4 linked regions of the Homo sapiens genome follow. The protein of the gene in region 1 interacts with the protein of each later gene in a biochemical or structural test. Each region holds a gene or a part of one and is shown on either strand. Other genes may lie near its edges.

Evidence for each region.
Region 2: the proteins of NTF3 (region 1) and NTRK2 form a complex in vitro, tested with the Homo sapiens proteins (one study listed by BioGRID).
Region 3: the proteins of NTF3 (region 1) and NTRK1 form a complex in vitro, tested with the Homo sapiens proteins (one study listed by BioGRID).
Region 4: the proteins of NTF3 (region 1) and NTRK3 form a complex in vitro, tested with the Homo sapiens proteins (one study listed by BioGRID).

Annotation. Positions count from the first base shown.
Region 1 is NC_000012.12:5,491,100-5,495,835, reverse strand, and holds the end of NTF3 (neurotrophin-3 isoform 1 preproprotein), read right to left. Parts: intron 1,705-4,736; exon of another isoform or gene 1,643-1,704; coding exon 848-1,642; 3' UTR 537-847; downstream 1-536. UniProt on the Homo sapiens protein: Seems to promote the survival of visceral and proprioceptive sensory neurons.
Region 2 is NC_000009.12:85,015,707-85,022,750, forward strand, and holds part of NTRK2 (BDNF/NT-3 growth factors receptor isoform a precursor), read left to right. Parts: intron 1-4,499; coding exon 4,500-4,658; intron 4,659-5,545; coding exon 5,546-5,731; 3' UTR 5,732-7,044. UniProt on the Homo sapiens protein: Receptor tyrosine kinase involved in the development and the maturation of the central and the peripheral nervous systems through regulation of neuron survival, proliferation, migration, differentiation, and synapse formation and plasticity.
Region 3 is NC_000001.11:156,870,865-156,877,864, reverse strand, and holds part of NTRK1 (high affinity nerve growth factor receptor isoform 2 precursor), read right to left. Parts: intron 6,243-7,000; coding exon 6,110-6,242; intron 4,233-6,109; coding exon 3,906-4,232; intron 3,483-3,905; coding exon 3,465-3,482; intron 3,295-3,464; coding exon 3,239-3,294; intron 2,960-3,238; coding exon 2,857-2,959; intron 2,346-2,856; coding exon 2,199-2,345; intron 1,786-2,198; coding exon 1,655-1,785; intron 1,466-1,654; coding exon 1,293-1,465; intron 1-1,292. UniProt on the Homo sapiens protein: Receptor tyrosine kinase involved in the development and the maturation of the central and peripheral nervous systems through regulation of proliferation, differentiation and survival of sympathetic and nervous neurons.
Region 4 is NC_000015.10:87,875,707-87,882,750, forward strand, and holds part of NTRK3 (NT-3 growth factor receptor isoform a precursor), read right to left. Parts: intron 4,723-7,044; coding exon 4,564-4,722; intron 1,415-4,563; coding exon 1,229-1,414; 3' UTR 1-1,228. UniProt on the Homo sapiens protein: Receptor tyrosine kinase involved in nervous system and probably heart development.

The sequences.
Region 1 (4,736 bases):
CTTTCCAACTCTGCTCACAGCTCTAGAAGGGGCTGGCAGATGAGGAGGGGTGGTCACAGGCTGAGAGTCGGCCATAAATAAATTTATCCTCTATGTATAGATGATTCATGATCCATTTCAGTTTGCTTCTGGGTAGTCATGCAATTATTTTGTTACAAATAGTTTTAAAAAATTCCTATGTGCCTAAAAAGATGAAACCACTTGCAAAAAGCAAAACAAAAACCAAAGCCAAAACAAAAAAATTCAACCCTTAAACAACCCCAAACCCCAAAACAACAAATGTGCTGCAAAGAAACTTCCAAAACTAAAATTGCCAGGGTCGTTGTTATTGTTCCAGGACCATAACACTGGAGCAAATCATAATTCTAATTTGCCAAACTAACAGCAGAGAATTTGATATAGAACTTGCTGGCCAGAGCTACAGGGTATCATTTTAAGTAAGTGCAGGCCATAACAGTTCTTTTAATTCATTAACCCAACATTAAATGTACCAGAAGAGGGATATAACTGTGTTTATACACAACTCTGACATCATCTGATTTTAACAAGTTTACTAAAACAACAGTCATGGCCTTGACAATACTGAATGCAAAATACTGGTGTACACAGATTTTACAGAGTGACTCCTGAGAGCCGGATCACAAAACAAGTTTTAACAGATGGGAGAGGCCTGAGGGAAGGCAAGCACACTGATTTTATTGAGAAAAAAGCTTATATACTGTAGGGTTGCTGAAGTTTAATAAATAAAGGTCAACTTATAATATATAAAAACAATATAAACATTTATATGCTACATGCATATCATATAATTTAAAGTAATAATTTATATATGGGGAGAGATGCCAATTCATGTTCTTCCGATTTTTCTCGACAAGGCACACACACAGGACGTGTCTATCCGTATCCACCGCCAGCCCACGAGTTTATTGTTCTCTGAAGTCAGTGCTCGGACGTAGGTTTGGGATGTTTTGCACTGAGAGTTCCAGTGTTTATCATCAATACCCCTGCAACCGTTTTTGACCGGCCTGGCTTCCTTACATCGCGTTTCATAAAAATATTGTTTGACGGGAGAGTTGCCCGTTTTGATCTCCCCCAGCACCGTGACCTGGTGTCCCCGAATGTCGATGGCCGATGACTTGTCGGTCACCCACAGACTCTCACTGTCACATACCGAGTACTCCCCTCGGTGACTCTTATGCTCCGCGTACCGTTTCCGCCGTGATGTTCTGTTCGCCACCACGGGGCTGCCCACGTAATCCTCCATGAGATACAAGGGCGGGGGCTCCAAGGGGGTGCTGTCGCTCAGCAGGACCCGCGGTGAGTTGTAGCGTCTCTGTTGTCGCAGCAGTTCGGTGTCCATTGCAATCACCGGCTGGAATGCTGACTTGGCGGGCCCTCCCCGCTCCGGCTCTCGGGGAGCCTCAGCTTTGGGCAGGGTGCTCTGGTAATTTTCCTTAACGTCCACCATCTGCTTGGAGAGCTTGTTTTTCAAAATATCTGCCTGGATCAGCTTAATAATGAGGGAATTGAGCGAGTCTTCTGGCAAACTCCTTTGATCCATGTTGTTACCTTGGATGCCACGGAGATAAGCGAGAAATATCACATAAAACAAGATGGACATCACCTTGTTCACCTGTAAGATCTGAAAAGGAAACACAGGTGTTAAGAGCAGGCTCTGGCAGCTGAGTCTGTGTTATTCTGGCACCAGCTACCTGAGGCTGAGTAGCCCTGTGAGGGCACGAGAGAGGGTACCGCCCCCCAGGTAAGCAAGGCAACTCCCCTCTGGACATTCTGAAGAGGTGATTTCTTTCCCCCACCCCCGGGAGATACTGCGAATGCACTCCAGGTCTGCCGACTCTGCTTTTTGCACGGGTTGTATTTACATTGGATGTCTGCTTTATCCTGCGGTCTCTGCTTGTGGGTGGACGATGTCCTACCGCTTCTTTAAACATCCCTTGAGCCTGCAAAGACGCATGGTTCACTCTACCTTGGCAAAGCATGAAAACTTCAAACCTGAGAATTGTAAACATGGAGTAACTTCCCTTCAGCAGCAGCAGCGGTGGCCTTGTAATTGTCTCAAGAAAGAGTTCGACTGCTCCCCAGCTGCAGCCCCTGGAACACACTGAGGCTGAGGACTGGTTCAGTTGCCCCCATATTGCAGTGTCAGATGTGGGGTCATCCCTGGCCAGGCCGCAGCTGGAACGGTCTATTCTCCTGCCCTTGGAAATGAACATGTAGGGCCACTACCCACTCCGCGAGAGGGCCTACGTTCCAGGGTGCTCTGCCGAGCTTTCTGATACATACGCATCACCAACTGATCTGCTCCATCCCCGGGGACGCTCTCCACAAAACGCAGCTCTGCCACAGCACTACTTGCAGAAGACAGAGATGCAGAATAACCACCTTACATAAATGGGCTGGACTTGCCCAGAATAGAAGAGTCATTGTTGATTCACTTGCCTCCTTTAGATTTTTAACATTTCTGCTACAAAATGTTCCTTTTAGTGCTTATGCTTCTTCTAATTCTACTATTTCCTTGTTGAAATGGCATTTCAACCCATCCACGCTCTCATTCTGTTGCCATAGTAGAAGCTTAACACCGGACTCCGGTGGCGTCCTGGTGGAATTACAGTGCTGATCTCAAGACACCTTCATTGCTAGTCTCTCCCTCACTAGAGCAAAGCCCAGATGTTCTGAGGGTAGCACTGGAAGGAGATGCTCCAGGTGGAGAGGGGCAGCTGAGCTAGTGATCCCCGAATTCGTCCACCTCCTTGAGATATTCACTCCTTAATCACCATCGCTGCCACCTCACTGGCTCCCAGGGGGGTACATCATTTCCTCTTTAAAGTTCTGTCCAAACATGGAAAATAAAAACTCTTCCCCTGGTTCACCTTTGGTATTTTCGGAAAGACTTTACTAAGTCCAGGGGGAAAATAGAGAGGAAATAAACAAAGCCGACACAAGAAACAGAAAAGCAGTCCTGCTAACCAGCACCTATGTCTGAGCCTGCCAGTGCTCACTCGCTCCCAGGACTCACAGACAGCCTCTTTCCCAGCTTGTCTGAAATACTGCCGGCTCACTTGTCCCTAGAGGTCAACAACAGTGAGGCACTCTGCTCATACTGCCTCCTCTTGCTGCTGTGATAAGGAGACCATCTTCTTTCCATGGGAACTAGTCTTTGGGAAAACTGACTCCTTCAAGGTCAAAGCCAAGAGAGGGATTCTAGCTTTGCTGCTCACCCTTAGAGATGACTCTAAGGAATTGTACTATCCTAGGAAAATGGTTCCTCTACAGCATAAGGAATCTCCCTCCTATTCTGCATACAAGTGACATTTTCTTCAATATTACAGGCCCAACAAAATGCAACTTGAACAATACAAAAAATATGGCATACAACTAGGATTACATTCTCTACTCCCCTCAAAAAGAATAATACAGCTGCAATAAAATCATTTAGGACTGAGAGTCTATTGAAAAACAATTTGTTAAACCTCCCAAAAGCTCAGCCACTGTAAGCTAAGAATACACAGGATATCCGCTCTTAAGGAAATAAATCAAGTATGGTTAGTGAGGGGAGGTCCCAGGTAGAATAAGAGTCAAGGTACAGATTAGTGAGGTAATGACCAGGATGAACTGAGAGGGAGAATGCTGGCTGATGCTGATGGATTGAGGAGGAAAAAGTAAGAGTCTTTATGGGTGGTGGCTGGAATATGGAACCAAAGTTTATTAGAAGTAGATAAGCCATATAAAGAGGCCATCTAATCTTATTCCTTCATCTTATAGATGAGGACAACCTAAATGCAGTTTAAAGAAGAGGAGAAAGGCCGGGTACGGTGGCTTATGCCTGTAATCCCAGCACTTTGGGAGGCCGAGGTGGGTGGATCACGAGGTCAGGAGATCGAGACCATCCTGGCTAACAAGGTGAAACCCCGTCTAAAAAAAAATACAAAAATTAGCAGGGCACGGTGGCAGCCTGTAGTCCCAGCTACTCGGGAGGCTGAGGCAGGAGAATGGTGTGAACCCGGGAGGCGGAGCTTACAGTGAGCCAACATCACGCCACTGCACTCCAGCCTGGGCGACAGAGCAAGACTCCAATTCAAAAAAAAAAAAAAAAAAAAAGAAGAGGAGAGACCCACAGGAAAGTGAGAGGGGTTCTCTGCACTCTGGCCCTCACCTCCCTTTTCCATGTGATGACTGGGCTCACAGGCCTCTTGCTCCAACCCCATTCACTACTCACTGCTGCTCAAATCACAACCCATGTGCACTGCCTCTCCTGTTGAAATTTCACCCGTTTTTCAGTGCCTGGTTCCAAAGCTGACCTTTCTACAATGCTCCCCCAAGATCCCAACGATAGCACCTGCCACTTCCTTGCAACCTCAGCCTGCTCTCCCAGTGGCTGACCATTTCTTTCTTACTTGCCATGATACTTTGTAATAAGTAGTGGGAGTAAGTCATCTGCAGGCTGGTGAGTGTTTCTAAACTCTTTAGAAGGCTGTCTTAAAGCCCTGCAGGCTTCCTGTGGACTCCATTTTAATAATCGACTTCTAGCTTTTCTCGTAGAGAGCAAGTCCAAGAATGTTGCTAACAGAACTCCCCAAAACACAGAGGTTTGCAGCTGGAAAGGACCCTAGACAACCTCCTCATTTATACATATAAGGGAACGGAGGCCTGCAGTTGTGGTGAAGTGAGCTGTCTAAGGTCAGACTGCTAAACAATGGCAGAGAGTGACGGGGGCA
Region 2 (7,044 bases), on another chromosome or scaffold:
GCAGGAAGGGAGAGTTTTTTCTTGAAGTGGTGGGACTTGAGCTTGCCTTCATAAAGGAGACCTTTGGGAAGTAGGGAGAAAGGGAAGAAGATCAAACTTTCTAAGAGGCATGAGTAACTTGGCCCTGGGTAGGAAGCCACCTAAGCTTGCTGGCTGAACACAGAGTGTGTGTGGAGACTGGAGAAAGCAGAAAAGCAGAGTGGTCCATCCTAATGAATACAGGATGTCCAATGGGGAAAGGTTTGGTATGTGGCTTTAGGTAAACTACTTAAACTGACTGACTTTTAGGGGCATTACTTGCACTATCCAGGCAAGTCCATGTCTGCTGTAGAGCATAACTGTTGGGTTCAAGTGAGATAATTGAATAGAAATTCTTCGTAAATGTTGAAGACTGAGTGTTGATGGATGATTACGGTGGCACTGAGGTGGTGGGTGATTCCGGAACCACGGCGTTTTTGTGCTGGAAGTAACCAAGGGCTGCCCTAACTCTTCACATTTTACCAATAAAGACAGAAGCCAGACCTGAGGGTACCTGCTCAAGCTGGTTAATAGCAGCAGCACAAGAACTAGAACTCCAGTCTCTTGGGTTGAGGAAAATAAAAATTGCAAGTCCAAGTCAACTCTCCAGATAACTGGGTTTCTCATCTTGCACCAGGTCAACCTGGTGAGTTTAGTGAAGACCATGAGACCCCATTCAACTTAATTACTGGAGAGCCCCTGAGGCCCCACAGCATATCAGGCTGAGAGCAGGAATTCTGACTCTCAGTGTCATTCCTGGGATCACATTCCATCTCACAAATATTTAAGCAAGGGCATGAGGGCAAGTTGCCAAGTAGTACGATACAAAACAAATGTCTCATTGTGTTTGTTGCTGCACAGTGTGTTGTTTGTGTGGTCCAAAAACCATCAAGTGACTATAACTAGAATGTGACAGTAATTTGTAACAACAGTGACTTTTTTGGGGGGAGGGTCTACTTTTGTGACATGCTTCAAAATTCTGAGAAAGGGTTGCAAAAGAAATGTTCAGAAATGTACTAAATGGGCTTAGAAAACTTGTGAACCCTGTCTGAACTTTTATTAGATTGTCCCACCACTCACCCATTTGACATCTGAACAAGGAAAGCATTATTTATAACAGCATGCGTGAAATCCCAGAAGGGATTCTTGAAAGAATTAGAGTGAAAAATCTGCCCCAAAGAGACAGCAAGCAGAAAATAAATGATCAGATGAGAAAACATGTAAATCAAAACGTGAATCTTTTGTTCTCTCTCTCTTCTTTAAAGGAAACAGAAGCTTTTTCTTGGCTATTAGCAATTCAGGATAGAGAACCAGTATCAGGTTTTCTATCTTGCATTGCTAATGACCAAAAAAAGTGGGTGCTGCTATCAAAGGAGCCACTTGGTTAAGGCCAAATGAAGAGTTCAGGAGAGTGACATATGATGATTCTTCTTAATGTCTCCAGAATGGCTGCTTCTGGAGTAAGTAAGAGAGTGAAGGTTCCAGAGAAGAAAGCCACACCTCAAAAGCATTAATACTTTAAGACTTAGAAAACACTTTCACAAATGCCTGCTTGAGTAAATACCTCCCAACAACATTAGGAGGTATACATTATTACTTACATATAATTATTAAACCTTGGCCACAGAGAGATTTGGCAACTAGTCCAGGTTACCCCAGTAGGAAACAGGTAAGTGAGCGATTGGAAACCAGCTATTGTCATCCACTGCATTGCAGCTGTGAATATCCAGGTAGATATGGAAATCCTGAGATCTTGCTAGATTAACACACCTCAAAGTGTATTTTTAGCTGTCTTACCTGAGACATATATAAATGGTTATCTCTCCCACAAACATACATTCAAATAGTTTAATTTACCAAAGTTAAGTTTGTTCTTTCCTGCCAAACTCCTCACATACTTTAATAAGCCTCAGTCCCTGATGGATCTCCTTGAATTGAAGAGGGTTGCAATTTACAGTACATTTGACATATTTGATCTAGGAACTTCTGGGGTTGTTAAAATAACACAACTCAGACAGCATAACAAGAAGACCAGGTCCCAGTCTTTATTTTAAGATTCCTACTTCTCTAAGCCCACTTTGACCACTGGGGTTCTATTTTATCTAACGAGAAAGAACAGCAACACCAAAATGCACAGTGGAGCTGGTTGCACCATAGCACTATGCTGACATGAACAATGATGAAATGAGCTCTTCTTTATAGGGTAGGAAGAAGGTTAAAATGAGAGAGGTAAGGTTAAAAATAAGATGTATAGCAGAAGGGATTATTTTTCCCTTTGATTTCATCTTACCCATTTTTTTTTGCATGTTAGGTAAGCAAAACAATGCCATGTTTGTATCTTAAGAGGTTCCCATAAAATGCTTGCTGTGTGGATGAAAATGGTCTGTTAAAATGTGTAGACCTCTGTCCTATCTGCACCACCCAGGCAAGGTCACATAATTGCCAGGAGCAATTTCATCATCTGTAGGCTAGAGGTGCCACCAAGAGTCCTGAGTTCTTTATGGTTTGCTCACACAATTAAATGACACCAGACGTGTATAGATGTTTTCTAAACCATATGGTACATTCCAATTATGGCTTCAGAGAATGGCAAGGAGACTAGAGATGCTTTATTCTAGGGGTTAACAATCTTTGAAAATGTGTGTGCCAAAGTGCCCAGCCTTTTCTGGCACATAAACAGAAGGGTCATTTGCCCACCTCTGCAAGGTGGCAGCAGCATCCCTGCATGGCCCAAAGCAGTCCTCTCCTTGGCATTGCCATGTGGGCTGCCCAGACCTGGTGAGATCATTCTACCCTCATACCGCAAGTCCTCCAAAGCATCTGGAAACAACAGGTCCTCTGTGTATGTCAGCAGATTCCCTCTCCCAAAGTCCTGGGCACCTGGGGGTCACAGAGTTATAAACAGGGCAGATATTTGCCAAACCAGAAATGTGCTGAAATAGCTGCACCCATATTTACTACCCACATCCTTTCTGGTTGGTCAGTGTCTGTGCCACACTGATTGCAGTTTGAGTATCGACCCTGAGGGTGACTGTTGCCACCACCTTCAGACATCAAGTAAGACCATAAGAGAAGTCTCTGTCCATTGAACACTGATGACCTGTCACTGCTGAAGGAAGAGTGAGGAAATCTAAGGCCAATGGAAGCCAACTTAGCCTTTATGAGCTTTTTGTTTATTAAAAACTGAATAGTAGAGATGGGTCACCTGAGCCAGAAGTTTTTGTCCCTATTTGTCAAATTTGGATGCATCATACAGAGAAGAATGAAATAAAATATCCTCCCCCTTTTGTACTCTTGTGCTTTCTTTGGTGCTAAGAACATCACTGGGAATCACCAAGCATGTTAGACATCTCTGACATTTCAGCCTCTTGGGTTCTGGGGTAGGGGAACATTTTCCAGACACTATTAGTTTATTTTCTTCCTTTAATAAATACTAACTGGATATTGAGATTAGAATTGGGCAGAAACTCTATGCACCATTACTCTATAAACTCAGGACCCAGAGTTGTTAGAGAGGTCCAATTTTCTGCTGTAGGATAAGCCCACCTGCTCTCAGCTGTCAGGCATACTGTGTAGCATGGTGGTGCTGGGGGGTTACCAGGATGAAAAGCAGAACCTACCGCCACAGGACTACTGTGCAGAAATCTGTTCATGGGTTTGAAATCGGGCATCCCTGACAAACCTGGAAATGAGCTTCCTAACTTTCCTCCATGAAGTAGGAAGTCATATACAATTTTACTTTGTCAAAGAAAGTTTTCTTTGCCTGTACTAATGCGATTGCTATCTGATGCCCCAGTCTCAGTGTTTTCATTAAAATGGGCATTTAAAAAATGTATTTATCTATTGTGGTAAATAATCTAAGGAGCAGTGCCCTGTAATAGAGGAAAGTCCTGAGCTTAGAATCCAAAGACCTGAGTTTTGTTTCTGTAAGCAATCTGAATCTTATTGCCTTATTTGTAGAATGAGAATAATGATGCCTGACCTGCCCATCGCTGAGTGATGGTGGAGGGGTTTGAATCAGCATCATGCACACATAAGACCTGAAAGCAGAAGGAGACTCTGGCCTTGCCAAGGAAGTAGAGTCACTGGTTGGTCATTTTGGATGCAGAGTACCTCTTTGTTCTCCTGGTCAAAGTGATCTTGTTAATTAGAAGATTGAGTCATCCTCTTAGCAGAAAGTGTGTGTATGTGTGTGTAGTTTTATTTATCCAAGGTGATCATCTACCTAATCATCATCCCTGCTCCTATCTGGTTTTGAGAGAAAGAATTGCAGATAATATTTTTTTAAATGATTTTGATCACTCTTTGCCTTCTGTCTCTGTTGCTTGAGACTGTGAAGAAGTCATATATCCTTTATGTGTTTATAAACAATTAAAACTATAAAGTGCAAATAAGGAAAGCAAACAGTGTCCCCCAGCAGCTCCCTTCCACACCTGGTTTCGGGGTGACTGATGCCTCCCTGTTGATCCCTTTCTCCCCAGGTCGGTGGCCACACAATGCTGCCCATTCGCTGGATGCCTCCAGAGAGCATCATGTACAGGAAATTCACGACGGAAAGCGACGTCTGGAGCCTGGGGGTCGTGTTGTGGGAGATTTTCACCTATGGCAAACAGCCCTGGTACCAGCTGTCAAACAATGAGGTGTGCAATGGGTCTGGCCAAGACCCTCCAGAGGGCTGAGATCCCAGAGGCATCCATTGGCTGGGGCCTTGTTTTGGGTTGGAAGACCATGTCAGGACACGATCTTATGGGCTTTGTTGGTGGCAGCACTTCCCAAGTAGCCTGCTATGTTTCTAAATTTCATGGTCAAAGTATAATCACTCTGAGAAAGCAAAGCACAGTGCTCGCTGCTATGTCCTTGCTCCTCTGGTGATGGGACTGAGGAGTCACTTTATGCAGCTCATCTGATAAATTAATAGCAGACGTAGCATTCCAGAATCCATACAGTCCAGCAAGTTCTTTAGTATTGTTCCAATGAAGTTTCAAGATTCTTTCCTTTTTGAATATTTCACCAGAACATTAACTTCTAGTGAAAAACTCAAGCATTTTGTTTTTTCTATTCTTACGCTTGCAAATATTGTTTATATTTGAGGCACAGCATCTTGATCAGGCACCGTACATCTTTTTCAGATCCATTTCTATCTTTTTAATCCAGTTCCTTTATCCAATAGCCTGAGAGGTTTCCTGTCAGTCAGTGCCTTAACACCCAGGTGACTCAGGTTCCATCTCAGACCAATAAAAACCACAACATGTGGGAGCTCCAGTGTGAGGTTTGGGACCATTCCATATAAATTATTTTTCCACCAGTTTTGTGAAATCAGAGTGGCTTGGACAAATGGATATAAGCCAATCAAAATAAACACGATATAAACTAACCTATAATAATTGCTCTCTTCCTTCTGAGAAAACAAAACCAAGAGTGGGCTTCTTTTGTAAAAGCCCTCTCTTCTGCTGTTTTTTTGCACTGACATTTCTTCGATGTGCATTGCTTTTCCTCCTGTCTCATCCTATCTTTGATCTCCATCCAGGTGATAGAGTGTATCACTCAGGGCCGAGTCCTGCAGCGACCCCGCACGTGCCCCCAGGAGGTGTATGAGCTGATGCTGGGGTGCTGGCAGCGAGAGCCCCACATGAGGAAGAACATCAAGGGCATCCATACCCTCCTTCAGAACTTGGCCAAGGCATCTCCGGTCTACCTGGACATTCTAGGCTAGGGCCCTTTTCCCCAGACCGATCCTTCCCAACGTACTCCTCAGACGGGCTGAGAGGATGAACATCTTTTAACTGCCGCTGGAGGCCACCAAGCTGCTCTCCTTCACTCTGACAGTATTAACATCAAAGACTCCGAGAAGCTCTCGAGGGAAGCAGTGTGTACTTCTTCATCCATAGACACAGTATTGACTTCTTTTTGGCATTATCTCTTTCTCTCTTTCCATCTCCCTTGGTTGTTCCTTTTTCTTTTTTTAAATTTTCTTTTTCTTTTTTTTTTCGTCTTCCCTGCTTCACGATTCTTACCCTTTCTTTTGAATCAATCTGGCTTCTGCATTACTATTAACTCTGCATAGACAAAGGCCTTAACAAACGTAATTTGTTATATCAGCAGACACTCCAGTTTGCCCACCACAACTAACAATGCCTTGTTGTATTCCTGCCTTTGATGTGGATGAAAAAAAGGGAAAACAAATATTTCACTTAAACTTTGTCACTTCTGCTGTACAGATATCGAGAGTTTCTATGGATTCACTTCTATTTATTTATTATTATTACTGTTCTTATTGTTTTTGGATGGCTTAAGCCTGTGTATAAAAAAGAAAACTTGTGTTCAATCTGTGAAGCCTTTATCTATGGGAGATTAAAACCAGAGAGAAAGAAGATTTATTATGAACCGCAATATGGGAGGAACAAAGACAACCACTGGGATCAGCTGGTGTCAGTCCCTACTTAGGAAATACTCAGCAACTGTTAGCTGGGAAGAATGTATTCGGCACCTTCCCCTGAGGACCTTTCTGAGGAGTAAAAAGACTACTGGCCTCTGTGCCATGGATGATTCTTTTCCCATCACCAGAAATGATAGCGTGCAGTAGAGAGCAAAGATGGCTTCCGTGAGACACAAGATGGCGCATAGTGTGCTCGGACACAGTTTTGTCTTCGTAGGTTGTGATGATAGCACTGGTTTGTTTCTCAAGCGCTATCCACAGAACCTTTGTCAACTTCAGTTGAAAAGAGGTGGATTCATGTCCAGAGCTCATTTCGGGGTCAGGTGGGAAAGCCAAGAACTTGGAAAAGATAAGACAAGCTATAAATTCGGAGGCAAGTTTCTTTTACAATGAACTTTTCAGATCTCACTTCCCTCCGACCCCTAACTTCCATGCCCACCCGTCCTTTTAACTGTGCAAGCAAAATTGTGCATGGTCTTCGTCGATTAATACCTTGTGTGCAGACACTACTGCTCCAGACGTCGTTTCCCTGATAGGTAGAGCAGATCCATAAAAAGGTATGACTTATACAATTAGGGGAAGCTAATGGA
Region 3 (7,000 bases), on another chromosome or scaffold:
CTGGTCCACAGGATAAGCCCAAGACTCAGGGGTCTCTCCTAGCTGAGTCCTGCAGCCTGACTGCATGAATGACCCATCACTCCCAAAGGGATGTTTGGGGACCAGATCATGACCATCAACTGGACAACCATACAGCGCTTGCTCATCCAGAACCACAGCCCCCACACTGTCCCTCTTACTGGTGAGGAAAGTGAGGTCAGAGAGGAAAGCTACTTGGCAAAGAAGGCTCAGCTCATAAGTGGCAGCTGATTCCAAACCCTGCTCTTCTCCCTGCCTTGCAAACACTGCCCCATCCTCCCGGGGGTGATCTCATCAGAGAAGGACTAGACCGAGGGAACATGTGACCATCACATCAGGGGCTGAGAGTAGGGGCTCTGCCTGGGGCCACATCACCCCTGGGCCATTCACTACCTGTGTGCCCTTGGGCAAGTCACTGAACCTCTCTAAGCCTTATCTGTGAAACAGGCACATTTCTCGAAGTTATTAAAATTATCAGCACAAATAGATAAATGTATCAGAGTTGTTCTGTCCGAAGCCAAAGAAATGAATTTTTTGTAACTTGCTTCAAGTGTAAATTGCAATATATGCTTGGAGGCCATAAAAAATAAATACATATTTATATTACTATACAAGATATATATGTACCAGCACATAGAACCATAATAAGAACAAATTGTAGAGCCAGGTGCAATGGTGTGCACCTGTAGTCCCAGCTACTGGGGAGGCTAAGGCGGGAGAATTGCTTGAGCCCAGGAATTTGAGGCTGCAGTGAGCTATTATTGCAACACCGTTGCACTCCAGCCTAGGCAACAGAGCAAGACCCCAACTCTAAAACAATAACAGTAATAAATACATGTTAAAAAATAAAAAATAATAAATTATAAAGTATATAACATAGCACCTGGAACATAGAAGGTGCCTGATAAATGTTCATTACTGTCGTTGTTACTGTCGTTATCTAAACTGCTACCCTTACAGGCCTGGCCTTTGTGTGCCACACACAAATGCACATACACCCTCTGCAAAGCCCACCCACCCCAAAGTTTTAGCTCACGGCCTTTGCCATCGCAACCTCCCTGACTACTGACACTTGTCCTTTGCAAGAGTCACCCCTATGTTCACACATCTGCCTCCTCTACCATCTCAGAGCTCCCTGGGGACGGGAATGTGCCTTCCTGATCTTTCTTGGTGTCTCCCCTTGGTTTGAAAGACAAGCAGGGATGTCTATAGGGAAGGGAAGACGGGGCCCAGAGCCAGGGGCCGGGGCCAGCGCTGAGGCCAGGTGCTGGTACCGGAGGAAGCGGTTGAGGTCCCCGTGCCGCATATACTCAAAGACCATGAGCAGGGGGCGGCCCTCGGTGCAGACGCCGAAGAAGCGCACGATGTGCTGGTGCTGCAGCATGGTGAGCAGCTCAGCCTCACGCTGGAAGTCCTGCCGAGCACTCTCGGACGCCTCCTTCAGTGCCTGGATGGAAGCGGCAGGGACAGGACTGAGTTGGGGGCCGAGCCCTCACTGCTGTTCACCCAGGGCAGCCCGCCCACCCCGGTATCCAGCCATGTCAGCCCTCTGCATCTCCCCCCACTCTGTCCTGATGTGATGGAGCTCCTGGGGGTGGGACCCAGGCCAGCAGTACCCCCCGGGGCAGGGTCTCACCTTGACAGCCACCAGCATCTTGTCCTGCTCAGGCAGGAGGTTGTGGCACTCAGCAAGGAAGACCTTCCCAAAGGCGCCCTCCCCCAGCTCCCACTTGAGCACGATGTCCCGGCGCTTGATGTGGTGAACACCTGAGGGGGCTTGCAGGGTCAGACGGTAGCCCCAGTCTTGGGAGGGCTGGGGTTGTAGCGGGGACTGTCTTGGCAGGGCTGTGTGCTGCACAAGGCTGCCCAGACGAGGGACTGCATGGGGGCTAAAATTCAACCTGCACCCCTTCAGCAAGCCCCATGTCATAGTGTGGGGCTGCACCTGCCCCGAGAGGACATGGTTTGGGCTAGCTGTGACTCTGGGCAGGGGATGCAGCTAAGAGCCAGGCTGGACTCAGCCTGAGAAGAATATGACAGGGCCTATGGCTGGAATAGGGCTGGGGAGGGGTGGGAGAAAGGGAGGGATCGTTCAGGCCTAGGGGCTTCTACACACACACACACACACACACACACACACACACACTCGTCCCTGCCCTTGACCCAGCATAGCCCCTCACAGGCATCACTGAAGTATTGTGGGTTCTCGATGATGTGGCCTTGGAGCCCAGAGCCTTTGCCCTCGGTGGGGGACAGGGAGCTGCCACCCAATGTCATGAAATGCAGGGACATGGCCAGCCCATCCTCTGGAGCCAGCACAGCCGGGCCTAGAGAGGAGACACAGCCGCATGGAGGGGTTTGCCCACACCTTGGCCCTGCCCACCCTTGCCTGCAGGATGCCTGGTCACCCCCACCTTGTAACTTGCAGGGGAGAGACTGAGAAGCTAGGGAGCGAGACAGCAGGCAGGGGGAAGGGGGCACCACCGCCTCTCCCTGTGCTGGCTCCTGTCCCACCCCTGGCCCCATGGGCACCAAAGAACTCCCCCTCCACCCCCACAGAGCCCAGACCTCCCAGACCCACTTAATGCTTGACTACAATCCAGCCACCAATTAGCAGCTGCCGCCTCTGAAACTACCCCAGCACCAGCCCGACACACGCTCCCACACACACTCACACTCACAAGCCTCACAGCCAGGCCTTCATTTATACCCCAAACACACTCACACGCCCTGGAACTCCCATGTGCACAGCCCCCCAGAGACAGAGTCAGGAAGAGCCAGTAGGAAACAAAGCCAGGAGAACAGACAGACAGACAGCCCTCTGCAGCCCCGACTCACGGTTGATCCCAAACTTGTTTCTCCGTCCACATTTGTTGAGCACAAGGAGCAGCGTAGAAAGGAAGAGGCAGGCAAAGACGGCCAGGCCCACAGCCACCGAGACCTGGTGGGGGACAGGGGTAGTTAGATCCAGGGGCTCCTCCTGTACTCTCAGAGCCTCCTGTAGTAAGCCATTTTTTCATCCTGCATGGGAGCCCGGAGCCAGGTCTCCAGACCTGCCTCATCCTCCCCTGGGGACCCCTGCAGTGGCTGTGCGGGTGGCCGTCAGAGCTCAGGCCAGATGGTAGTGATCTCCCTGCTCTGACCAGAAATGACATGCAGATGAGCCTCTACCCAGCCTCCCGGTCCCAAAGTCTGCACAAGCTTCTACTTCCTATCTCACCCCAAAAGGTGTTTCGTCCTTCTTCTCCACCGGGTCTCCAGATGTGCTGTTAGTGTCTGTAGGGACACAGGGCAGGAGGGGTGAGCCTTGACACACACTGTAGCCTCCAGTAACCCCCCAACCCTGGCCCCAGCTGGTCTCTCAGGGATCAGTTCAGCTGTACCCTCTGCCCCAGCCTCAGCTCCAGAGACCAGGCAGAACCTGCCCTCCACCTTGGGCTACTCACCCACCGGCGAGAAGGAGACTGCAGCAGGAGGGAGGAGAGAAAGCAGTCAGAGGGAGGAGAGAAAGCAGTCAGAGGGAGGAGGAAAGCAGTGAGTCCCCTGCCTACTCTGGGACTCATTCCTTCATGGGACGAGGGGGGATGGAGGTGGGCTGCTGGGCCTCAAGGAAGAAGATGCATGTGACCCTTTTCCAGCTGGGCCAGGATGCCCTGCTGCATGGCTGTCTCCTCAGCCAGCCGACAAGGACGGAATAGCTCAGGAGTTCAGGAGTCCTGGCTTGGGGAGAGGGTAAGGAGGCCAGAACAGCGGGACACCAGGACTCCAGACTCCTTTCTGTCCCGAACCAGGCACTCCAATTTCTGGGGTCAGGGCTATAGCAGGAAGTTGGCTGTAACCCAGGAGGAGCCCAGGAGTGGGGGCAGGGTTCAGGATGGCCCTCGCACCAGGGATGGGGTCCTCGGGGTTGAACTCGAAAGGGTTGTCCATGAAGGCAGCCATGATGGAGGCGGAGGCCTGGCCGAAGGGGTTGGCAGCCAGCAGCGTGTAGTTGCCGTTGTTGACGTGGGTGGGCTGGTTGAGGCGCAGACACCCGTGCCGCACGGTCTCATTGGCTGCCGGCTCCAGGAACTCAGTGAAGATGAAGCTGGTCTCATTGAGCACGGAGCCATTGAAGAGCCAGCGCAGAGACGGTGCCGGCTGCCCATCCACAGAGAAGGGGATGCACCAGTGGTGCATCTCCACCGCCGTGTGCAGCTGCACACTGGCCGGGACTGTGGGCCAGAAAGAGCAACAGCAGGAGGTCAGGGCGCAGCTGGAGGGAGCCTGGCACACACCCGACAAGTCCACGGGCAAAGCGAGTAGAACCCGAAATCAAAGGGCAGGCCTGGGAGAAACAGGTCAGCAGGCCCTGGGAAATTCACCAAGGAGAGATGTTTTGAAGAAAGTTGACAATACATTTTAAATAAATCAGGCAGCAGGCATATAAAATTTAGAGGCTTAAAGAACATAAGTGGTGGGCCATAAATAAGTCACAGCCCCACAGGAGTGGGGTATCAGCTTATGACAATTAAACATGGAGTCTTTGGGATAAGGAATCTAGAAGAAGTCAGTGTAACCAAGCTGAAGAAGATGGGTCAGGGGCCCTAACAATCAAACCAGCCAAAAATATATACAGTTAAATTTTTGGGGAAAAGCCAGGCACAGTGACTTGCTCCTGTAATCCCAGCTACTCAGGGGGCTGAGGTGGGAGGATCGCTTGAGGCCAGGAGTTCAAGGCTGCAGTGAGTTATGATCCCAAAGCATTCCAGCCTGGGCAACAGGCTGAGACCCCATCTCTTCAAACACACACACACACACACACACACACACACACACACACACACACTCTTTTTGAAAAAAGATATGCGTTTGAAATAGACCCAATCTGGGCCAGGCGCGGTGGCTCACGCCTGTAATTCCAATACTTTGGGAGGCCGAGGCGGGCGGATCACGAGGTCAGGAGATCGAGACCATCCTGGCTAACACGGTGAAACCCCGTCTCCACTAAAAAAATACAAAAAATTAGCTGGGCGTGGTGGAGGGCGCCTGTAGTCCCAGATACTCAGGAGGCTGAAGCAGGAGAATGACGTGAACCTGGGAGGCGGAGCTTGAAGTGAGCCGAGAGCGCGCCACTGCACTCCAGCCTGGGTGACAGAGCGAGACTCCATCTCAAAAAAAAAAAAAAGAAATAGACCCAATCTGGTAAAAGTAAAAGCCCCTCAATGATAGAAAAAAAGTGTATGTATGCATAAATATATGTATATATATATATAATATAGCATTCATACATAGGAATACTATTTAGCAATGAATTGCATGAGCTACATATAGCAACTCCCATTAACATGAATGAATCTTATAAATATAATGTTGAATGAAAGAAACCAGATACAAAATAATACACGCAGTATGATTCCATTTATATAATGTACAAGAACAGGCAAAACTAAATGATACCGATAGGAAAGCATATTTGAGAAAAATTATTTTTAAAAGCAAGGAAATGGTTATCCTGACAAAAGTCAACATGAGATGGGAGAGTGGGATGGGATTGCGAACAGGGAGAGGTGTTGGGTGGTGGGGGATCTTCCGTGATGCTGGTAAGAGTAATTATTGTTTAAAATATATATATTTTTTGCACATTTCTATGTATATTTCACAATAAAAGAAGAAAACTGATGTAAAGTAGAATATTTAAGATAATTTGTTGGCTGATCTAGAGAAATTAGGCAGCGAGCGTAAAGAGGAACTCAGGAGGAGAATTTCCTCTTTTGAAACTAGGATGCGGGGAGAAGGACCCGATGAGGGACGGGCATGAAAAAATACTTCGGAGCAGTGGGAACAGCCGGGCATCTGGCGTTGAGGGCCTCAGGTAGCAAGGCTCGGGCAGGGGGCCAGAAAGAAATCCATCTCCATCCCTCTGGCCTTGACAAGACCCCAGGACTTCCCCCAAAGGATCAGGTTTTCATGGGAATCTGGAAACAGCTGGGAGGGAGCAGCTGTGGAGACACACATCCCACCCTTTCTTCCAGCCCCCCACCCTACATCCTCTTTTGAGGGAAGAAGAGATGAGTAGGGGGTGGGTGCCGGAGCTGCCACTGAGACTCACAGGAGACGTTGACCTGAACAGAGACCTCTGCCCGGCCCACATCGTTCTCTGCCCAGCACGTCACGTTCTTCCTGTTGAGGTCACTGGTGACATTGGCCAGGGTCAGCCCCAGGGATGGCAGACCCCCAGATTTCTAGATCAGGAAAGAGAGGGGGGAATAAGAAGGAGCTTTAGCCAGCTTGGGGCTGGGGCTGAAGTCTTTGGAGAGCCCCTCTGGCTCCAGATGGAAAGGAGAGGAGGGCTGGGAGGGAAGAGAAGGGAGAGAGGGGTGGGAGAGAATGTAGCAGATAATGGCCTTCCTCCTTTAGGTTTGTTCGTTGACTATCTCCTGGATCACATTTTTTTTTTATTTTATGTTTTATTTTTGTAGCGACGGGGTCTTACTGTCCTGCCCAGGCTGGTCTTGAACAGGGCCTCAAGCAATCCTCTCACCTCGGCCTCCCAAAGTATTGGGATTACAGGCGTGAGCCACTGCGCCCAGCCTGGATCACGTATTTAATTATCTGAAAAATCTAAAATCTAACCAGTAGCCTCAAAATAGGCACAAAATATCCCAAACTGAAACTAAAACCAGCCATCTGAGCAGCTAAACAGATGTCACGCATCCCAAGTACCAAATTTGTACACAGCTCGTTGGAGACCCCACTAGGACCTCACTGCCTATTCATTCCTGTTTTACACACAGTTCTAACAAACTGAGTCTCAGCCCAAGGAAGATCAGAAACAAAGAGATGGTGCAAATAGCACAGCAGCAGTTAGAAACAACAGCAGCGGCATCGCCTCCTGCAGCAGATGAGGACCATGGGTGAGGTTAGACAGGCAAAGTGACTTGATTCTGAATCATCGTCAGGATTGAATCAGATCAAGTTTCTCTTCCTAGGAAACCGTGGA
Region 4 (7,044 bases), on another chromosome or scaffold:
TCTCACCCACTCCACTGCTTGCTTTCCTGAAACACTCACTGCTGCAGCCTCTCACTAGACCTGGCTCCCTTCCTTGGCAGTGGGGTTTACCTGGGACTCAGTAGAGACCCAGGAAGTGGGGTCTAGGATCTAGGGAAGCAGGATGAGAAACTGAGAGGACCAGGGGGCATTCGTTATAATGACCTACAAGCAACCAAGTCTCTTGCTATTGCAACCCTAAAGCGTGCTGTGTCTACATTCAAAGATAACATGGGGACCTGTTTCCTAACCCCCTAAGCTTCCCAGGGGCCTGAAAGTGGGAGGTGAGGCCAAGGAATCTTTGCAATGATGGAAAAGACAGGTGGCAGTGTCTTGGCAGGGTTCAGGTTTCAGCTATTTTTTCTTCTGTGGTTCTTTTACTCCAGAAAGTCCAGTTCTTTAAGTTCTGAGAATAGAAAGACACATCCTTTGCAACTCCAGCAAGAAGCTTACACCCAGGATGGATGCTGTCAGCTCTTGTCATGGTTTTGTGTTGTGGGGTTGTCTGTTCTGTGTTTACCCGTAGGTGCCATCATTGATTCCCAAAAGCATCAAGATTACACTTTTTAGAATGGACAAATTAGAACATTGTCCTGAAGTGGAGGAAATGGGGAAGAAGTGGAGGCAAGGACCCTGCTCAGGCATCATTTCTTTGCTGAGCACAGCCATGCAGTCCCCACATGTGCCTGTGGTGAGCTTCCGGGGTAACAGACACACACAGCAGCGACTGAGCACCACCTTAACTCCTCCCGTCCCAGAGCTCTCATCCCAAAGATTGTCTCTCTGCATGGTCCAGGTCTTCTGCTCCAAAGAGCCGTAGCATTAGAAGCATGGGCCACAGCTTAAGTCAAAGGGAATTTTCCTTTGTATTATTAATATTTTAGAGTTTCTGAGTTGTTAAAGTCTTGTGGTTTTCTGTATCAGCAGCTTCTCTGTGTACTAGAGAAGGTAACTCTCTGTAGATATAGATTGATAGATAGTTAGATATATAAATATATATATATATATATATATTTGCCAAACTGCCTTACAGGGTTTTTTTTTCTTTCTTTTTTTTTCCTTTTTTCAGTGTTGTATGTGTAGCAGGCACTTGAGTTTATATGAAGATGTTCGCTTCAGTCAAGGATGGAAGGAGTTGTGAGGTGGAAGGGAGATGTGAGGCAGGGAGAGAGGAGGCAACAGAGTATGAATTCATGACCACCAGCCACCACTAGCCAAGAATGTCCAGGTAGATTGGGGTGGCCTTCCCCAAAGCATGGAGGATTTTGTAGATCTCCTTGATGTTCAACCGCTGCTGTGGTTCCCTCTGCCAGCACCCCAGCATGACATCGTACACCTCTTTGGGGCAGACTCGGGGCCGCTCCAAAACACGACCTTGGGTAATGCACTCAATGACCTGAAAGAGTGAGAAGAACAAGGAAGTTACACCCAAAGCTCAGCCTTGGTCCTGTGGCTCAGACTCGGCAAAAAGCAACAACTTCCCGGATTAGTTTCTATGCAGAGCCGAGGCTCTCACAAGCACAAGCTAAAGGCTAGGCTGTATACAGCACTGGTATATTTGTCTGTCTGGTGCACAGTGCAGTGAGCAGCAGTGGCTGGTGGAGTCCTCTGCTGCCCTTCATACTCCACTTCTTGGGCCAGGCCCACATTGACCATTGACTCCCCATACTCTCTTCTCTTTTACCTCACTTTTCTTCTCTAGTCCTGAATCTCATCAGGATGACTGAGCTGCATTCATTTTTCACTTGATAGTGGACATGGGCTTCTGACCTGTCCCTCCCCCTTTCATGAGCCTGCCTCACTTTGAAACTGCCATGAAGGAGCTCTGCACCCTCTGGCCCCTGCATGCCTATCTCCTCTTATCTCTCATTCCTGGCAGGCTCCCAGTTGCAGACTCTGTGCACGTCACCACACTTGCCTCTGAGTCATTACATAGGACCCTTTTGCAGCAAGACCCATCCTTCCCTGCTGCTTGCACTAAACCATGCTTCCAGTTTCTCTTAAAGTCCTTAACAATAGGACTAACTGCTTGATTCACCACTGCCTTCTGGGTGGCCAGTTCAAGTCTGTTAACCTCAGGATCTCAGCATGTCCATCTGTAAGATGGAATCAAATGTCTGCCTTAACCACCCCCAGGAGTGTTGTAAGGATGAAATGAGACCACGAAAAGGGACTGTATGGCCCAACATACTGAAGGAGAAGCCATAAGGAGGAGTAGGAAGAAAACAAGTAATGCATGCCTGGCCAACCCCAGCAGGCCACTTGAGACCCAAGTGTATAATTTGCAATGCATTTCCAATTCCTCAAAGATAATTCTTTACTGACACTGAATATATGCATTTTCAAGGCTTCATTGTCTAGTTTTTAGGTTGGTTTTCACTTCTCCCTAACTCTACCACTGCATAACTTTGGTCAAGTCACTGACCCCGAACTTCAGTTTCTGCATTTAAAGATTGGTCATAATGATAAAAATACAAAGAATAATCTCTAGCTCAGCAGCTGAACAAATATTATTTCCCTTCTCTGCCACCATTAGTCTGTATCTAATTAGGTAAAAGCACTGTCTTTTTTCTCCTTTGCATGTCCCTACACTGCTCAACAGTGCCTTGTTTCCAGTATTGTCTCATGTCACGCTGACTTTGGGAGGGCTGGTCAAACCATCACTGTGTCAGCATCCGCCTGGTTATATTCACCCTGGAGTTTACGATGGCCCCTTGGCTCATTTCTTTACCAGCCTGATAAGTCTCCAGCTGCTTATATTCCCCATTCATATTAGAGACCCATTTCCACCCTCCATTACCTTCACCTCCAGGAAAAGGGATTCAGTTCGAACTACAGTAGCAGCTGCTAATGCCAAGATCAAAGGCACCTGGGAGTGTCTCTTCTAATGTTGGACTATCCAGGTTTGTTGATTTCCATGGAGAAACCGATGATCAGAGACTGTCAGTATGTGGCTGCTATGGTGGGTGGAGTGGGGGAAGTGGCTGAGGGCAGAAAGCCTGCCTTTAAGGCCAATGCCTCTGTGAGTCTTAGAAGAAACTGCAAACACCCTGTTAGCTGCTATGAGCCAGCTCAAGAACAGATGCTGAGTCTTCTGTTAAGACCAATAGCAACCTCAGCCCAGAACCTCTGTTTACTGGGGCCACCAAACTACAAGGAGGCAGTGTTCAGGTGCATGCATGGTGTGTGTGTGTGTGTGTGTGTGTGTGTGTGTGTGTGTGTGTGTGTGTTCCTAACCCTTCCTCCCCTGCGAAAACAGTAACAATTTCTTAAACACCATAACAAATGGGTTCTAGTATATATACTTTCATTATTTTAAAAGATTGTTAAAATATTTTGTTCTACTTTGGGAAATGTGGTCAGGCCCCACTGAGCTTGTGAATCATGAGATAGTACACGTTTTAAAAAATAATTTCTTTTCAGTCTTTGTAATTCACTTAATCAAGTGGTCAAGACATAGGAGAGCAGAGACAAACATAGCTTCCAAGAAGAAAGACACTCTGTTGAATATTCAAATAAGATTTCAATACCAAAAGGGTCTTGTGTTTACATTTTCCCAGCAAACAGAAGACCATAAAAAGAATTGCGATGTTTCATAGGGATGTTTCATAGGTCGACTGGGTTGAAAGACTGAGCTCCTTACTGCCTACAAACTGCACTGAATTCCCTGGGGCAACATGGCATGGTCCATGCATCACTGAGAAGCATCTTGATGGGCTTTGGAGGCAGAGGAGTCCTAGGATTACAGCCCAGGCTTTGTCCCTGCTTTGGAGGCTCTTACCTGTGAGACCCTGGCCAGCCCATTTCAGTACCTCAAGCAGACCCCCTTCCTTTAACCTGAATCTCAACAGGTGTTTTTGCAAAAATTACTGAATTAATAGAGCTAACATGCTTAGAAAAGTGCCTACCACTAAATGTCAGCTACTATTAATTTATGTTTACTAGCATTTTTTATTATTGCAAATTACAATTATAAAAAATATAATGGCTATTTATTACTAAGTTTAACAGTAAACATACTAATAAACATAGTAAAAACATAGTAATAAAATAAACACGGTTTATTTTATTCCTAGACGTTCACACATGACTCTACCAGTTATAAAACTGGTCTTCCCAAATTGACCATCTGGTACATCCCTGGGCTTGGCATACCTAAAACCTTTGTGCACCCAGATTATGTGGGCATACTAAGTAGTGGGTGTTTCCACAAGATGGCACAATTGAAAAACTCATAGCTGTTCTGTTTTCCTTTTTTGTCATAGTGAAACATTTGTGATTTTTAAGGGTAGCAGATTTAACAGAGGCATGACTTGAGTCTCAATTTAGACCTCTGATTTCATGCTCTTTTGACAATTACACCACATTTCCTACAGTTCCATTTTTTTTTTCCTACTAAGAAGCTCTCTGCTCCCACTAATGCCTGCATTCACTCTGCTGGCTCTAAATCCCACCTAATGTCTTGTTCAGTAGGTCCAAGTTCTGGGCTGAGATAGCTCTTATGAGCCCTCCCCCAATCAAGATTCCTACGCACCCCCTTTTTACCTCCGTGTTTGAGAGTTGGAACCATGGCTGCTTTCCATAGGTGAAGATCTCCCAGAGGATCACCCCGAAGCTCCATACATCACTCTCTGTAGTGAACTTCCGGTACATGATGCTTTCAGGAGGCATCCAGCGAATGGGGAGCATGGTGTGTCCTCCCACCTAAAAGGGGTTGAGATAGAGGCACACAGAGTGACCAGATGGCCAGAATGAGTGTTATCTGTCTGCACTCTTCACACATAGATGCACTCTTGATGCATCCTATTCTAAGATAGTCACAGCTTTATGCAACTTCTATCAGAGGTGTGTGAAGATGCTGACTTTGGAGACCTACGATAAAGGAGACAGCTAGACTAGCAACTAGAGGTAACACCTGAGGGAAGGTAGGTTCCTTGGCACTCAGTGTGTAGAAAGATCAAGGTAATCTGAAGTGAGAGAGAAGGTTTCAGAATCTAGCACTACAGAAAAATCTAACCTTAAGAGCAAGTCCAGCAAGAAGTCAGCAGAATGACTAAGCCAGTCACCAAGGATCAGTATCTGCAAACATCAGGTTAGATTCTTGGCTGCAGTGGCACAGTATATTCCATGTGCATCTGATCTGCAGAACTTTAGCTTCTAACTGACAATCTCGAATCTCTCACCACAATTTAGGACTCAGTGTTTCAAGTGAAGGAGACAGAGACATTCCAAAAGCGTGGAAGACCACGTGCTAATAAGGTAGGAGATGGACAGAAAGAGAATTCACCACAGTTCTTAGTAAGATCTCAAAGGACAGTAGGGAGAGTCTTTAAAAATAGCCTAAGGAGGATATCAACCACCTGTGAATCTGCCAAACTGAAAGCCAAGGGGAAAAGGAAGTGACTGACAAGGATAAACACCCAGGGTACCCTTTACTGAGAAAAACATTAGGGAACTCCTCTTTGCCCAGCAGGCTAGAGATGTTAGCATAAGTGGGAGAAAATTCACAGCATGTGTGAAAACTCAGGAACTAACTGCATCATTAGTAAATAGATTTTCAGGAACTGAAACTTTTGCCTAATACATGGAACTCATTGTTAAAAAAACTACTTAATATTGAAAAAAGAGTTGTCTATTTATGTCCGGATGAGGTATTACTTAAAGTTCTCATTTCCTTCTTTCTTATTTATTTATTTATTTATTTATTTATTTTGAGACGGAGTCTCGCTTTGTCACCCAAGCTGGAGTGCAGTGGCGCGATCTCGGCTTACTGCCAGCTCCACCTCCCGGGTTCACGCCATTCTCCTGCCTCAGCCTCCCGAGTAGCTGGGACTACAGGTGCCCGCTGCCACACCCGGCTAATTTTTTGTATTTTTAGTAGAGACGGGGTTTCACTGTGTTAGTCAGGATGGTCTCGATCTTCTGACCTCGTGATCCGCCTGCCTCGGCCTCCCAAAGTGCTGGGATTACAGGCTTGAGCCACCGCGCCCGGCCTAAAGTTCTTATTTCTATGGGGGGTCAGTTAGAGAAATAATAACAATGAATAATTAAGAACGAATAAGTTGGGAGATGGGCAATCTTGTTTCCAAAAAGGGAAATCATGTTTGCCTTAACCACTTGAAGAATTTTAGGAGGTAAATTATAATACAAGTTTGCAGAGCAGTTCTTTTCTTTTCTTTCTTTTTTCTGAGACAGAGTTTCACTCCTGCTGCCCAGGCTGGAGTGCAGTGGCGCGATCTCCGCTCACTGCAACCTCCGCTTCCTGGGTTCAAGCGATTCCCCTGCCTTAGCCTCCTGAGTAGCTGGGATTATAGGCATGAAACACCATGCCTGGCTAATTTTTGTATTTTCAGTAGAGACGGGGTTTCACCGCATTGGTCAGGCTGGTCTCAAACTCCTGACCACAAGTTATACACCCACCTTGGCCTCCCAAAGTGCTGGGATTACAGGCGTGAGCCACTTTGCCTAGCCAGAAAAGTTATTTTCAACCTGGGACTTTCTAATCAGGATAGTTTTGTATCCAGTGTAAAGAAAACTGAAGATACTTCTTTCAGACAAGCAAAGACTCAGAAAGCTTACCACTCACATCCTTTCAGAAAATATAGGAGCCAAGCTAATTGAATACATATTCTAGAAAAACAGTAAAAATAACCCAAGCTATGCAATTATTGGAACATAACAAAAAATGCAGAGCAAATAAGCCACAAAAATGCAATTTAAATTTGAATAATGGTTGTTAATTTGGTAGTAAAAGTAATACAATTACTAATAAAGGCTTCCTGTAAAATAGAGACATAAAGTAAATAATAATACTAATAATGCTATTAGTACTACCACTGATACAACTAACATACTTATCTGGAATGAAACTTTCCAATAATTTCAACCATAAATGCATAGAAGAGTAGATATAGAAATAATTAAAAGCCTGATAAAGGCTGTATGTTATAGAAAGGAAAAAAGAAGCTTACAGTGATTAATTGTTGAGATTAACACTTTAAATTTAAATATGCTTACTAAAATTTT